Linked DNA regions of Homo sapiens. The protein of the gene in region 2 purifies or fractionates together with the protein of the main gene of each other region. This does not show direct contact. Each region holds a gene or a part of one and is shown on either strand. Other genes may lie near its edges.

Region 1 (7,028 bases), on a different chromosome or scaffold from region 2:
ATTTCTAGGTAGAAATTTCTGAATTTGAATACTAATTCTAAATCAGTCATTCTTTTTCTTCATATCATTTAAGGAAACAAATGCAGACATGCAAATTAAATGACCTATCCATAAAAGAAGTTTAATAGTTTCTTTTTTTTTTTTTCTTAAACACTTCCAATGATGTAATGTTATTTAACGTGCTACTTTACCTCTGAACTTTTTCCTTTAACTTTTCCTCGCTGGGCATTCTTCATCTGTTCATGGTATTGCTCTATAAGTAAGGCTGACAGTACATAGAGCTTCTTGACACGTAAAGGTTTACTTCCTTTCTTTGCCTCTTCATCTGCAATCTTAAACATTTTTCAAAATTGAGGGAAGTTACTTCTTATCTATATTTGTACAAATACAATCATTTCCAAAACTAACAAATTTGATTCCCTAAAAAAGGAGGAAAATCAGTAAGATGGAATATAAATATCACCTATTTAAGATAAATATTTTAAAACCTATCTTCTTTTCATTAGTACCTATTCGTATTTAGTTCTTTCCTTAGTATTTAGCCCTAGGAGTTGGAATTCAGATCACTCTTAGAAAATGAGAGGTGCTGTTAGATAACTAAATCAGAATAAAGAAAGTATTGATGAAATGCTGGTATTTTCCATAATACAGAGATTTTTAAAATAATGTTCCAAGTACACAAAGATATGATAGTGTTAACATGGTGCATCCTTCAGAAGCTGAAACTTATTTAAATGATTTTAAGAGATATTTTTCCTTTTTCATTAAATCAAATGGGAATAGAATAGAAGGTAAAATGTGTATACATTAATACTGTACTAATTATCTTCCCTCCAAATAAATATTATGTAAAGCGTAATATTTAAAACTTGTACATTTAAAAGAACTTAAAACTCTATTATCAACAAAATTTAATTCCCTGTTGTAGAAATTTGTACTTTGCAGTCTCAGTAATTTCTTTAACTCTTTGTTAACTCCAGTATTCAACATACAATTGTTTAGGTATTAGTAAGTTGCTAATATTAATAAACATCTTTGTTGGTAAAAGGCAATAATACTAAAATAATGTATACAGAAGCAATAAAACCAGAGTGGTTTTGCTGTAATAAATATTTGTTTCCAAAGAAAATGGAGAATATGCTCTTTCATATATTAAAATATTGTGACTGGAACAAATCAACTATTCACCAAGATTTTTACATTACCTTAAACATCAGTTTAGCTGCATCAAAAAAGTAATTGGCTTTCCGATAGAGTTCTATGGCATCAAGAGTTTTATTCTTTTCCAGTAAATGAGATGCATACCTAGCTAACAGAGATCCAATTTCTTTCATACTATGATTTTTAGCCAATTCAACAGCTTTGTTCCACTAGGAGAAAAATTACACCATTCAGTCACCCAAGTATTTACAGTCACATATATCATAAAATTCACACAAGAAAGCTTTAAGTTTATAGTAAAAACACTATTTCAAAATTAAAAACTGGTATGTTTTAAAAATAGCATTTAAAATCACAGCAACATAAGTCCTATAAGCATAAGTCAAAATGATTAAATGATCTCTAAGACTCTGATTTGCTTAAGAAATACATGTGAAAATGAAAGTTTCAAAGTTTATAATCATATTAATCTTGTAATTCTAATCTTACAAAACTTCAAGCAAGAAAGATACACTTGTTTATATGTTATAGTAAAACAAAATATGCAATTTCAGTTGTGAAAATGTCCTATCAGATTTGACATTTAAAAATTATTTTTATAAAGCAAAAGGGGTTTTAAAAAATAAGAAAAATATTAAAAGAATACATTAATAGTCAATAGTTTCTATAATAACGCTGTACTTTTAGTTTAATTTCAGCTCTTAAAAATATCAAATGTATGTTTTCTATAAAGGAAAAGGAAAACAGATTTGCCAAAATAAATATTGATAAAGTAACTCAATTCCTTCCTCAGGCAATGACCAACCATTAACTGGTCCTTCTTTGGAAACAAAACCCAACCCTAACAAAATGCAGAAAATTATGAAATTACTTCCAGACAAAAACTTGCCAGACTAAAAGCACAAGGTTTGTTCATGCTCCCATACTGAGCTGGTTATAAGTGGGTCACCCCTCATGGTAGCACTTTAAGAGGTAAGTGCAACTTTCTTCATCCTCAATTAAGAGAATACCCGCCTGGCTCCTTTCATAAAATTCACGTCAGGCTCTCCAACCCTTACATTGGCAATAATCTTTAAAAGATCACTAGGGTGACTTTAACCTTGCTTTGACTTAAAAATTCCTAAGACAATAAGCTGCACAGACAGAAAGTTTCAGTTCCTACTTGGTTGAGATGTACGCAGGTATCTACTGCTGCCTTTGGTTGACTACATTTCAAAAATGCAGTCACTGCTTGTTCACACATTCCAACTCTGACAAACATTTGTGCTATTTCCTGTACAAACAAAACAATACTATCAGATTTCACAGACCAAGGAAATTACTTATATTTTAATTTAACAAAACTCCGTAGGGACGTATGAGTATTAAATTTACTGGTAGTTACAGATTTTTCTTGTAAACAGACGCAAGGGCAGAGGGTACAAATGAGAATGGATGCTAAGGCATCACTTCTATAAATCCAGAGCTTCACTGGCTCAGGCTGTGGATCTGATTTTTAACGAGGCCCTGAAGACACTGCACTCCTTTCTTATCTCAGTTCAGTAGCTAGTATACAGAAATGTCAAGCTCCAAAACAAATCCCCCACCAGTGGGTGAAAAAAGCCTTTATATCAATTGGTGGTATACTCAGTGCTAATTATTAACTAGAGACTTAAGGGAAATCTCACATTCACAGAGCCCTCAAATACCTCTATAAAGAAATGTCCTAGAGAAGTCTGCCATTAATCAGTTCAGGAAGCTAGACCCAAAACAGAGCTCTCTTGGAAAGTGGTGGCAGCGAGGAAGAACCACCACCACCACCACCACCACCACCACCACCACCACCACCACCACCACAAAAAAAAATCCTACTTGTTCAGCTGCACTGGCCATTTTCAGAACATCATTTTTTTTCTTTCAGAATATCTAATTAGCCAGAGGTTTTCCCTCCCCAACCCTTCTACAATATGTTTGGAAGTATGAAAGTATATTTTATATCCAACTTTTAAAACAATGCTTATATTTTTCTGATTATAAGGGAATACATTCTATCTGTAAAAAAAATTACAAAACATGAAAAAGTGAAATTACTCATAATCTTATCATTCATAAGAAACCTCTCTCAATACTCTGGTGCAATTTCTTAACATCTTTGTCCTTTGAATATATATGTATATGTTTGTGTTGTACACAATCACACAATACACAATTTTGTATCCTGTATTTCCTACTTAAATATTATGTACACCTTCCCATATTATTAAAAATTCTTCTATAACTCTATTTAAAATTTATAATACTAAAATTTTTACTATTTTAGTTATTTAATTATCATTATAGTTATAATTACTTAGCATTTACTCAGGAATATTACTATTCTGGATACCCTACAGCAAAATGTTTATCGGCATCATCAGACACATCTAACAGACAACACTAACGGAGTATACACTCTTCCCTATACCCAGGGTTCTAAGTAATTTCAGTTTCTTTCCTACTCAAGAAAACCCATAGGATTGAAAATAAGGGTGAGTGAAAATACCATTATTACAGAGATAGCCGCTCAAATTCACAATAGGGAAAACTGAATTACCGTAATTCTATACTTATCTATTAACTAATAGGCAAAATTTTTGAAGCAGAACTCACAACTGATATACATCCAGACTCTGCAGTTGAGAGCTGCTAGCTCTACAAGTATTGTACGGCTCAGTGATTCACATATTAAACACATAAAATACAAACTTATTTACAGTATTCAACAATTAATTAAGAGGCTCTAAAAGAACATTTGAAAGCAAGAGAACTCTTTCCATTTCTCTTTTAACTTGAAATACTTTATTGTTAATATAACATAATAAAAGTTGAGCTATCTTTTTAAACTTAAGTTATAGCAAATTTCAAACAATTTCAGATTATTTTGAAGCAAATCCCTAGCAACATATCATTTCATCTGTAAATATTTCATGTATTCAGCTAACATTTAAAAAGTAACTTTATAAATCTTAACAGACTACACAAGACTGTGATCATATTAAAGTAGTAAGAATGTGACTGACTTTTCCTCCTCCATTTTCAAGCATTCTATATTATTTATATATTACTTTATAATTAAAAGCATCATTCCATGTCTAAGAAACTGTAACATTATAGATTTTTAATTTTCTTTATTGTGGGAGATATTTCCTGACTATAACATAAAATTTTATAAAGTAACCTAACAATTCCAAAAACTAAAATTTGCAATACCTACTGGAAGTAACTTGTGGTTTTCTGGAAGTGAAATGGCAAGGTTCTCTAACCCTTCATAATCCTCTAACATATAGTAACATTCAGCTAAGCGTTCCTGGTTCCGTCCTTGTACATAATATTGTACAGCATTCAACCTACAGAAAGAAAAAAGGAAAAACTTTTAAAACTAATGTGAATCTCCTGATAAATAAGCACTTTCAACCAAAATGTTCCTTCATCATAATTCCCAGTACTAGTATTACTGTTCATTATCTTCAGCTTCAGAATAACTTTCAAACATATAAATGGGGAAAAAAATCTAAAGCATATTCTAGTTGTAACATTCCTTGACTATTCTTAAGAAATACCACCGCTTTACTCCCAAACACTGACATAAATAAGCATACTAATCAAAATGAAAAGAAAAGCCAATGATTTCTGAAAATAATATATAATAAAGCAAATAAAAACACTTATTAAACTTTGTTCAAAAATAAAACATAAAACACCTTAGAATTATATACTGTAGGCTCAAACAGAAAGCTGCATGGAGCTAAGTACAAGTTTTGTGTTTATACACTACAAATTTTTATAGTGCTCATCTCACAACTTCACAGGATCTCCGGCTTTCCAAGATGAATCTAGAGCTATCTGAATTTTAGAATTCAAGAAAATGATCTTCATTTCCCCAGGATTACTTCCTAGAGAAGTACTCAGGCAGCTACTAAGTGTTGCATGAATGCTTGAGGAGCTCCAGGTAAGTTACATACCACTTTTGTCGATCAGCAAAGTAGTCTCCAATGGCATTGTTGGCTTGTTCCAGGAGACTGTCATCTGCATCACCAGATCCAGTTTTCAGGAGCTGGAGTACTCTAAACCAATCCCCCAATTTCAGCCGGAGGCCAATAGCAAGATCCCTACAAACAAAGGCATTCATTCATTCATTCATCTATTTGACAAATATTTACCAAGAGCCTGCTGTGTGTTAGGTACAGTTCTAGGTGCTGAGGCTACACAGCAGTGGACAATGTGACTCTCCAAACACTTTAGGAACTTAGCCTGACTAGCTAAGAGGAAATGAGGAGCACCTGGAGGTTATGGTTTGAATGTGTGTCCCCTCCAAAATTCATGTTAAAACTTAATCTCCATTGTGGTAGTATTAAGAGGTGGGGTTTCTGGGAAGTCATTATGTCTGCCCTTATGAATTGATTAATGCCCTCATAAAAGACTCCTCAGAGAATTTGCCCCTTTTGCCCTTTTCACTTTCCACCATGTAAAGGCATAACATTCAAAGCACCATCTTGAAAGTGAGACAGGGCCCTCAACAGACACCAAACTTGTTGACGCCTTGATCTTAGACTTCCTAGTCTCCAGAACTGTGAGAAAAATATTTCTGTTCTTTATAAATTATCCAGTCTCAGGTATCTTGTTATAGCACCCCAAATGGTCTAAGATACCAGAACAGGGAAAAGAATGTTGTGCCTTTACTTTCCTGGACTTTCAATTTATTTAGCAAAATAATGATTTAAATAACAATCATTTCTTTTCAGCAATTTCTTAGATGTGATCAGGTTTATTTCAAAACAAAACACAGTGTTAACACATGTGGTTTTATATGACTTTTCAGAGCCTAAGTCATATTAGAGATCTCCTGGGAGTATAAATAACATTAATGAAGATGAGATACAATCTTAACAGCTGAAATGAAGTTCAGACAGACTCTCCGCCTTGTGGTTCAGTGGCTAAGATTATCTGCTTTCATAGCAGCTGCCTGGGTTTGATTCCTGGCCAGGGAGACAGGCCTTACAGTTCTTTAATTCAAAAGAAGAAATATTTATGAAGTTCATACATTATTTTATATAAATCAAAAACGAAATATAAAGAACTAATCTCGATCCCTAACGACTTCTGATTTTTATTTTATGCCTCTTGACAACATAAAATTAAATAATGGCCTAAACAAACAAAGAAAGAAAGAACTGGAATAATGAGCTATGTCTTAAATATAAAAGATCCCAGTCTCTGTTGTTCTATCATTTTTTCCCATCAAATGAAAAAAAAACCTCCCAGAGTCAGCCATTATTAGATGTAAAAACAGAGAAGAAAACTGCCTCCAGACTATGAAACACAAATGAATGAGAGGCATGTAGAATATCTAGGTTGTAATCCAAACTTAAAATTAATTTCTAAAAGGAACCATATGATACACCTAACGTATTTATAGTTTCCATTTGTAAAAAATACAATGATGAACTGATAGAGTACTCAGGGATGCCTGCGCCTTCATAACTTACCTTCTGTCCATCTCGAGATACGTTCTTTCAGCCTCTTCAAACCTGCCGAAGTAGCCAACAACTTCAGCCTGTTTCATTGACTCACTCAGTAGTTTGCCCAAGCGCTTCACAAACTTAATGCCTTGGTAATCTTTGCAGCGCACAAATGCTTGCTCTGCAGTGTATAGATCCAGTTTCTGAAGAGCTGCTTCAGCCAGTAGGCGCCTTTATTTTAAAAGAAACAAAAACATAAGTGCATATTGCAAATTACTGACAAACTAGTCTTGAATCACAATTCAATTATCATTTATGTCTATTATTTCTAGAGAAACATGGTGGAAAGTAACATATGCAAACATTTTTCAAATAATTTTCTGCTTATTT
Region 2 (7,028 bases):
CTCCTAAGACTCAGGTGATCCTCTTGCCTCAGTGCCCCCAGTAGCTGGGACTCCAGCGACTGCCACCATGCCCGGCTAATTTTTGTATTTTTAGTAGAGATGGGGTTTCACCATGTTGCCTAGGCTGGTCTCTCCTGGGCTCAAGTGATCTGCCCACCTCAGCCTCCCAAAGTGCTGGGATTACAGGTGTGAGCCACCAAGCCCAGCCAAGCCAAGCAGATTATATATGAAAGCTATAGAGGAAAGACACCTTACATTAAAGTGTGAAGTCAAATGGTTCTCAGGCATGTAGATAAGATCTCATGGGATTAATTTCAACTTAAGAAAGTTGAGACTTTGGAATAAAAAAACCAGCTGAGATGGGTCAATTCCTTCTTGCTTTCTCTTACTCAACAACTCTTTGAATATCTACTGTGTGCCAAGCCATGTGCTAGTATGGATATAGCCATGAGTAAGAATTCACAAGTTTACAAACTGGTGGAAACGGTTCATGTTGAACAAGTAATAACAAATACATGTGGGTTACAAATGCTACAAGGACGCAGATGAAGGAATGTCAACCACATCTAGTGGAGTACATCAGAAAAGACTTTGATAAGGCAAAAGGCCAGAAAGAGGAAAAGGGAAGCCTCTCCAAGGAGGAAAGATGAGTGTGGTTGGACAAAGGAATGACAGGAGGGCTGCTTGGCTAGAATGATGGGAAGGAGGGGCATGCCAATAGAGAAGTCTGAAAGCAAATGCTACCATGTTAGATCTCACACAATGGGTAGTCACTAAAAGATTTGAAGCAGAACAGGAGGATCAACTGGAGCCTCGTTGTAGGAAGATTCATTTGGTGGCAGCAGAGAACGAGCTAGATAGTTCTCAAGCCTTTCCCGGGTGTGAAATGAAATGAAAAAGGACAATAAAACAAATAATAATAAGATACAATTTAAAAAGAAGTGGACTATAAATGCCAAAAAGAGGAAAAAAAATAAGAAAAAGAGATTAAAAAGAGAAAAAAGAGAATGAACTAGATAGGAAAAGATTAAAAGCAAAAAAAGATCAGCTTTAATTTATTGTAACCTTTGGCCACTGGGTAAGAAGTAAAGGTCTGAATTAAGTGGCAGCAGGAAAAAAGAAAAGGAAATAAGGGAAGAAATGTTCTGAGAGTGAAAAATAATTGAACTTGGCAATTCAAATAACTAAAACTCAAATACATGGAGAAAATGGTACAGCAACAGAAATCACAGAAATAGAAACAAGCTTGGGAGGGGAGGTTCTTCAGCGACACTAGGTGAAAAGTGCCAGCAGGACACCAGGAGGGCAGGCAGCGGCCCTGGGAAAGCAGCACTCACATAGGAGATGGCAGCCAGCTCCTGCCGGGTGTGGGCCGCTCCTACCAAACCCCGGCCCTTCATGGGGCAGATGCCACGGTCATAAACTGTAAACTTGGTCCCCATGAGGTTGGATCTGGAGTCAGGAGAAAAAGTCACCATGATGATCTGTATTTTTTTTCTTATACAAACACAATCTAAGAGAAGGAAAATGGAAGCCTATTTGCCTGTTTTCCAAATGTCTCAATGTTCATCATCACTTTTTCAAAAATATCTCATTAAAGCAAGGAAGGAACTGAGATTTTCTTTTAACTTTTTATTTACTTACTAATTCGAGACAGGGTCTCGCTCTGTCGCCCAGGCTGGAGTGCAGTGGCAGGGATCATAGCTCACTGCAGCCTCAAACTCCCAGGCTCAAGTCATCCTCCCACCTTAGCCTCCTGGGTAGCTGGGGCTACAGGTGAGAACTGCCACGCCTGGCTAATTTTAAAGTTTTTTGAAGAGATAATGTCTCAGTGTGTTGCCCAGGCTGGTCTCAAACTCCTGGCCTCAAGTGATCCTCCACCTCAGCCTCCCCAAATGCTGGGATTATAGGCCTGAGCCACCACACCAGCCTTATTTTTTTATTTTTTTGAGACAGACTCTCATTCTGTTACCCAGGCTGGGGTGCAGTGGCACTATCTTGGCTCACGGCAACCTCTGCCTCCTGGATTCAAGCAATTCTCGTGCTTCAGCCTCCCGGGTAGCTGGAATTACAGGCTGTTCTACCACACCTGGCTGATTTTTGTATTTTTAGTAGAGAGGGAGTTCTGCCATGTTGGCCAGGCTGGACTCCAACTCCTGACTTCAAGTGATCCGCCCGCCTTGGCCTCTCAAAGTGCTGGGATTACAGGTGTGAGCCACTGCGCCCAGCTTTTTTTTTTTTCCTTTTTCTTTTTTTTTAAGATTACAACATCAATACATGCTAGTTGTAACCAAGATAAGGACTGTTCTGCAACTATAGGAATAAGACTATCAGAAAGAATAGGACAGTGATCTAAGGTTGCTTTCACCTAAGCTTGCCGACATAACTTTCTCCTTCACGAGATAAATCAACTGGATCAATGGAGATAAGGTAGTTGGCTGTTTTGCTCTTTTTCCGCTTTCTAGCTGCAAGAAGAAATATCTGGGAAAAGAAAAAGTGTCAGTCAAAAATGAAGTCCAGAGAACCTGCCCCACCTCTGGTCATGGTTGTCCTACATATTCATTCAGCCAGTGCTTAGCAAGTCCTCAGCATATGTCAAGCTGTTAATCTTTGGGCCTTTATCCCTTTCTCTAACTCTCTTATCAGAATTCACTATCAGGCAGGGTGTGGTGGCTCACGCCTGTAATCCCAGCACTTTGGGAGGCCGAGGTGGGCAGATCACAAGGTCAGGAGATCGAGACCATCCTGGCTAACACCGTAAACCCTGTCTCTACTAAAAATACAAAAAATTAGCTGGGCGTGGTTGCAGACGCCTGCAGTCCCAGCTACTCAGGAGGCTGAGGCAGGAGAATGGCATGAACCCAGGAGGCGGAGCTTGCAGTGAGCCGAGATCATGCCATTGCACTCCAGCCTGGGTGACAGAATGAGACTCTGTCTCAAAAAAAAAATAAAAAATAAAAATAAAATAATTCACTATCAGGGTTTTCTTCCTATACAGTTTTTCTAAATTCACTAGCTTGATTCTCCATATAATTAGTTACAACTTCATCCCTAAAACTTCCAGTTAAAAAAAAAATCTCCAAAGCTGGGCCAGGTGGCATGAGCCTATAATCCCAGCTGCTTGGGAGGCTGAGGTAGAGGGATCACTGGAGTCCAGGAGTTCAAGGCCAGCCTGGGCAACCTTGCAAAATCCAATAAATAAATAACAATCAATGTTCATCCAATGCCATGATTAAGAGTCTTTCCAACCTTAGGAGAGACAGGATCCTGAAAACCTTCCCATTCTTTACTGTGATGGCTTTTTTTTTTTTTTTTTTTTGAGATAGGGTCTCACTCTGTCACCCAGGCTAGAGTGCAGTGGTGCAATCACAGCTCACTGCAACCTCTGCCTCCCAGGTTCAAGTGATTTTCCTGCCTCAGCCTCCCGAGTAGCTGGAACTACAGGTGCATGCCACCACTCCTGGCTAATTTTTTAATTTTTTGCTAGAGGCAGGGTCTCCCCATGTTAGCCAAGCTGGTCTCGAGCTCATGTCCTCAAGGGATCCACCTGCCTCAGCCTCCCGAAGTGCTGGGATCATACGTGTGAGCCACCGCACCTGGCCTGTGATAGCTTTCTTCATGCCATGGGGACACAGACAGAGGAATGTCAACCACATCTGGTGAAGCACATCAGGAAAGACTCTGATTAGGCAAAGGGCAAGAAGGGACAAAAGGGAAGCCTCTCCAGGGAGGAAATACTCTTTTTTCTATACTGCTGTTGTGTTAAACCACTGTGACCTCAATGGCATGAATACCATCCTATATAGGCATCCTTCCTAAACTCTCCTAGACTAGGACCATAATAGGGAAGCAGGAGAGTGGCAGTGGCTAAGCAGGAAGACTTTAGAATTATGCAAAATAGGTTTGAATTTGGCTCTGCCACCACTTAGTGCAACGTGGGGTAGGTAAGTCACTCCCTAAGCCCCAGTTACCTCATCTTTAAAGCAGAGGTAAGAAATCCTACCTAACAAGGTGGCTGCAAGGATTACAGGTGATAATATATATAGATATATATGCATATGCTTGGTCTGTCGTAAACACTCAATAAATGGTGGTTAGAAGAATTAACACCTAGTATCATTATCTTATTTCTAGGCTCTTAAAATCATCTGTTAAGACCTGGTATTAATACAAAATTAATAAAATAAAGTTCATCGCTGGCTCAAACTTATAAAATAAATTAGAACTTCTAGGGTGAGAAACAAGACATTTAACTTGTAGGTCCTTCTGTATTTCTAATTCCTCCTATTCCCTAAAACTCACTCTCCTTCCACAATGTCATGTTCTTCCGTAATAAAAAGAAAAACCAAAAGAACAAACAGTAACATTCAAAAACTCAATCATGGGAGACAGGTGAAAATAATTACATTAACAACTACCCGTCCATTTTCCCACTTCGTGGATAAAGCTCTTATTTGTGGGAGGGTAGAGCTTGCTGCCTATTAGACCATGAGCTCTTTGCAGAAAATGAGAACACAGCATCTGGGGACTGAAAGATACAATCTACTTCCAGCTGGCTTGGTCTAATACCAGAGTTAGTTCCCTAAGGCCCATCAACAATCTATTCCCACAACATTCTTCTCTCTCTCAAGAGTTTTCTTAGAAATCAATTCTCATACCTTCTGATTTTCTTCTTTTTCCAAGTACATATAGTAGGTGGGGAAGAGACCCCGATCCATTCCCCTTTTATCCCGGATTATCCGACATCTTACTGTGACACCTTGAGGGGCAGGACTATACACAAAGTCCTCCAGGTCGTCTATGTCTCCCAGGAGGTTATCAGCTGGTTGGGCGGCAGTAGCAGAACCGGAAGTGCCTGTATCCTGAAAGGACAGCCATACATGAGCAACAACAGGCCGAGACTCAAAATCTGATTCTCTTTGAAAAACACTTAGTGGACAAAGCAACTTAGTAATTTACCCGTGTCTTCAGTCTTCTGACAGAATGAGGAAAACTGAAAAGTTAAATTAAGTATATGAATATTGAGAGTAATGAAGAGTAAGTATCAAAATGGGACAAAGCCTCACAATAGCTGACCTGAGACAGAAAAAATTAGATCATAAACTAAATTTGAGCTTACACTTCTGAAGGAACCCTCACTCAGTAATGGTATTTAAATACTGAAGATATGTTTGAGGGCTGGGCACGGTGGCTCATGCCTGTAATCCCAGCACTTTGGGAGGCTGAGGCGGGCGGATCACGAGGTCAGGAGATCGAGACCATCCTGGCAAACATGGTGAAACCCTGTCTCTACTAAAAATACAAAAAATTAGCCGGGTGTCATGGCGGGCGCCTGTAGTCCCAGCTACTCGGGAGATTGAGGCAGGAGAATGGCGTGAACCCGGGAGGCGGAGTTTGCAGTGAGCTGAGATCATGCCACTGCACTCCAGCCTGGGTGACAGAGCGAGACTCCACCTCAAAAAATACATAATAATAATAAATAAATAAATACTGAAGATATGTTTGAGAAAGAGTCAAATTAGCTCTAATGGAAGAAGTTTCAGAACTACATACGGTTGAATTCTGGCTTGATGCAGAATTGGGTCTTTCTAAACATGCTGACTGGGATATTCCATCAGTCTCCTCATCGAAGTTCACACTTTCAGAGATATCTAGCAGAAAAGGAAGAACTGTTAGCACTGCCAACACTGTTTAAAAAAGGTCTTTGAAACAAAGATAGTTTTAATTTTCTTGCTTAAAACATTCTTAACTATTCTGACCGTAAACACAACTATTTTGTCCAAATACATAAAACAGGCAAATTCATAGAGACAGAAAGTAGAATAGAGGTTACTAGGGGCTGGGGGCAGGGGAGAATGAGGAATTATCTTGAATGGGTGTGAAGTCTCTGGGATGATGAAAAAGTTCTGGAGATGGATGGTAGTGATGGTTGCACAACATTGTTAATACACTTAATGTCACTGAATCTCACACTTAAAATTGATTAAAGTTGTAAATTTTAGGCAGGGCAGGCTGGGCGCGGTGGCTCATGCCTGTAATCCCAGCACTTTGGGAGGCTGAGGTGGGCAGATCACGAAGTCAGGAGATTGAGACCATCCTGGCTAACATGGTGAAACCCCATCTCTACTAAAATACAAAAAATTAGCCGGGTGTGGTGGCACGCACCTGTAGTCCCAGCTACTCAGGAGGCTGAGGCAGGAGAATCGCTTGAACCTGGGAGGCGGAGCTTGCAGCGAGCCGAGACTGTGCCACTGTACTATAGCCTGGGAGACAGAGACTCTGTCTCAAAAAAACAAAACAAAAAAAATTTAGGCAGGGCACAGTGGCTCGTGCTTGAACTCCTAGCACTTTGGGAGGCTGAGGCAGAAGGACTGCTTGAGGCCACCAGTTTGAGACCTGTCTCCATAAAAAGTTTTTTTAAAAAAATTAGCTGGTCACGATGGTACCTGTGTGTCTGTAGTCCTAGCTAGCTGAGGTGGTTGGATCACTTAAGCCCAGGATTTTGAGGCTAAAGTGAGCTATGCTTGTGCCACTGCACCCCAGCCTGGGTGACAGAATTACACCCGAACTCTTTTTTTTTTTGAGACGGAGTCTCGCTCTGTCGCCCAGGCTGGAGCGCAGTGGCGCGATCTCGACTCACTGCAAGCTCCGCCTCCCGGGTTCACGCCACTCTCCTGCCTCAGCCTCCCAAGTAGCTGGGACTACAGGCGCGCGCCACCATGCCCGGCTAATTTTTGTATTTTTAGTAGAGACGGGGTTTCACCGTGTCAGCCAGGATGGTCTCTATCTCCTGACCTCGTGATCCGCCCGTCTCGGCCCACCCGAACTCTTAAAAAAAAAAAAAGTGTACTTTTTGTTATTTGGAAGGGAAGGGAAGGCTTCAGTAAAAACAGGAAAACTTGCTAGACAAATTCTAAAAAGAGCTGCAGCACTGGTAAATTATTATGATTTTTTGAGATGGAGTCTCACTCTGTTGCCCAGGCTGGAGTGCAGTGGCACCATCTCAGCTCACTGCAACCTCCGTCTCC

What was found. The genes of interacting proteins can lie anywhere in the genome.
Region 1: the proteins of TULP3 (region 2) and WDR35 purify together in Homo sapiens (affinity purification with mass spectrometry; 6 studies listed by BioGRID and IntAct, with this or other methods). This does not show direct contact.

What each region holds. Positions count from the first base shown.
Region 1 is NC_000002.12:19,931,078-19,938,105, forward strand, and holds part of WDR35 (WD repeat-containing protein 35), read right to left. Parts: intron 6,870-7,028; coding exon 6,666-6,869; intron 5,289-6,665; coding exon 5,142-5,288; intron 4,527-5,141; coding exon 4,394-4,526; intron 2,435-4,393; coding exon 2,324-2,434; intron 1,371-2,323; coding exon 1,206-1,370; intron 333-1,205; coding exon 192-332; intron 1-191. UniProt on the Homo sapiens protein: As a component of the IFT complex A (IFT-A), a complex required for retrograde ciliary transport and entry into cilia of G protein-coupled receptors (GPCRs), it is involved in ciliogenesis and ciliary protein trafficking.
Region 2 is NC_000012.12:2,928,871-2,935,898, reverse strand, and holds part of TULP3 (tubby-related protein 3), read right to left. Parts: intron 6,935-7,028; exon of another isoform or gene 6,874-6,934; intron 5,652-6,873; coding exon 5,554-5,651; intron 4,863-5,553; coding exon 4,659-4,862; intron 2,482-4,658; coding exon 2,369-2,481; intron 1,453-2,368; coding exon 1,338-1,452; intron 1-1,337. UniProt on the Homo sapiens protein: Negative regulator of the Shh signaling transduction pathway: recruited to primary cilia via association with the IFT complex A (IFT-A) and is required for recruitment of G protein-coupled receptor GPR161 to cilia, a promoter of PKA-dependent basal repression machinery in Shh signaling.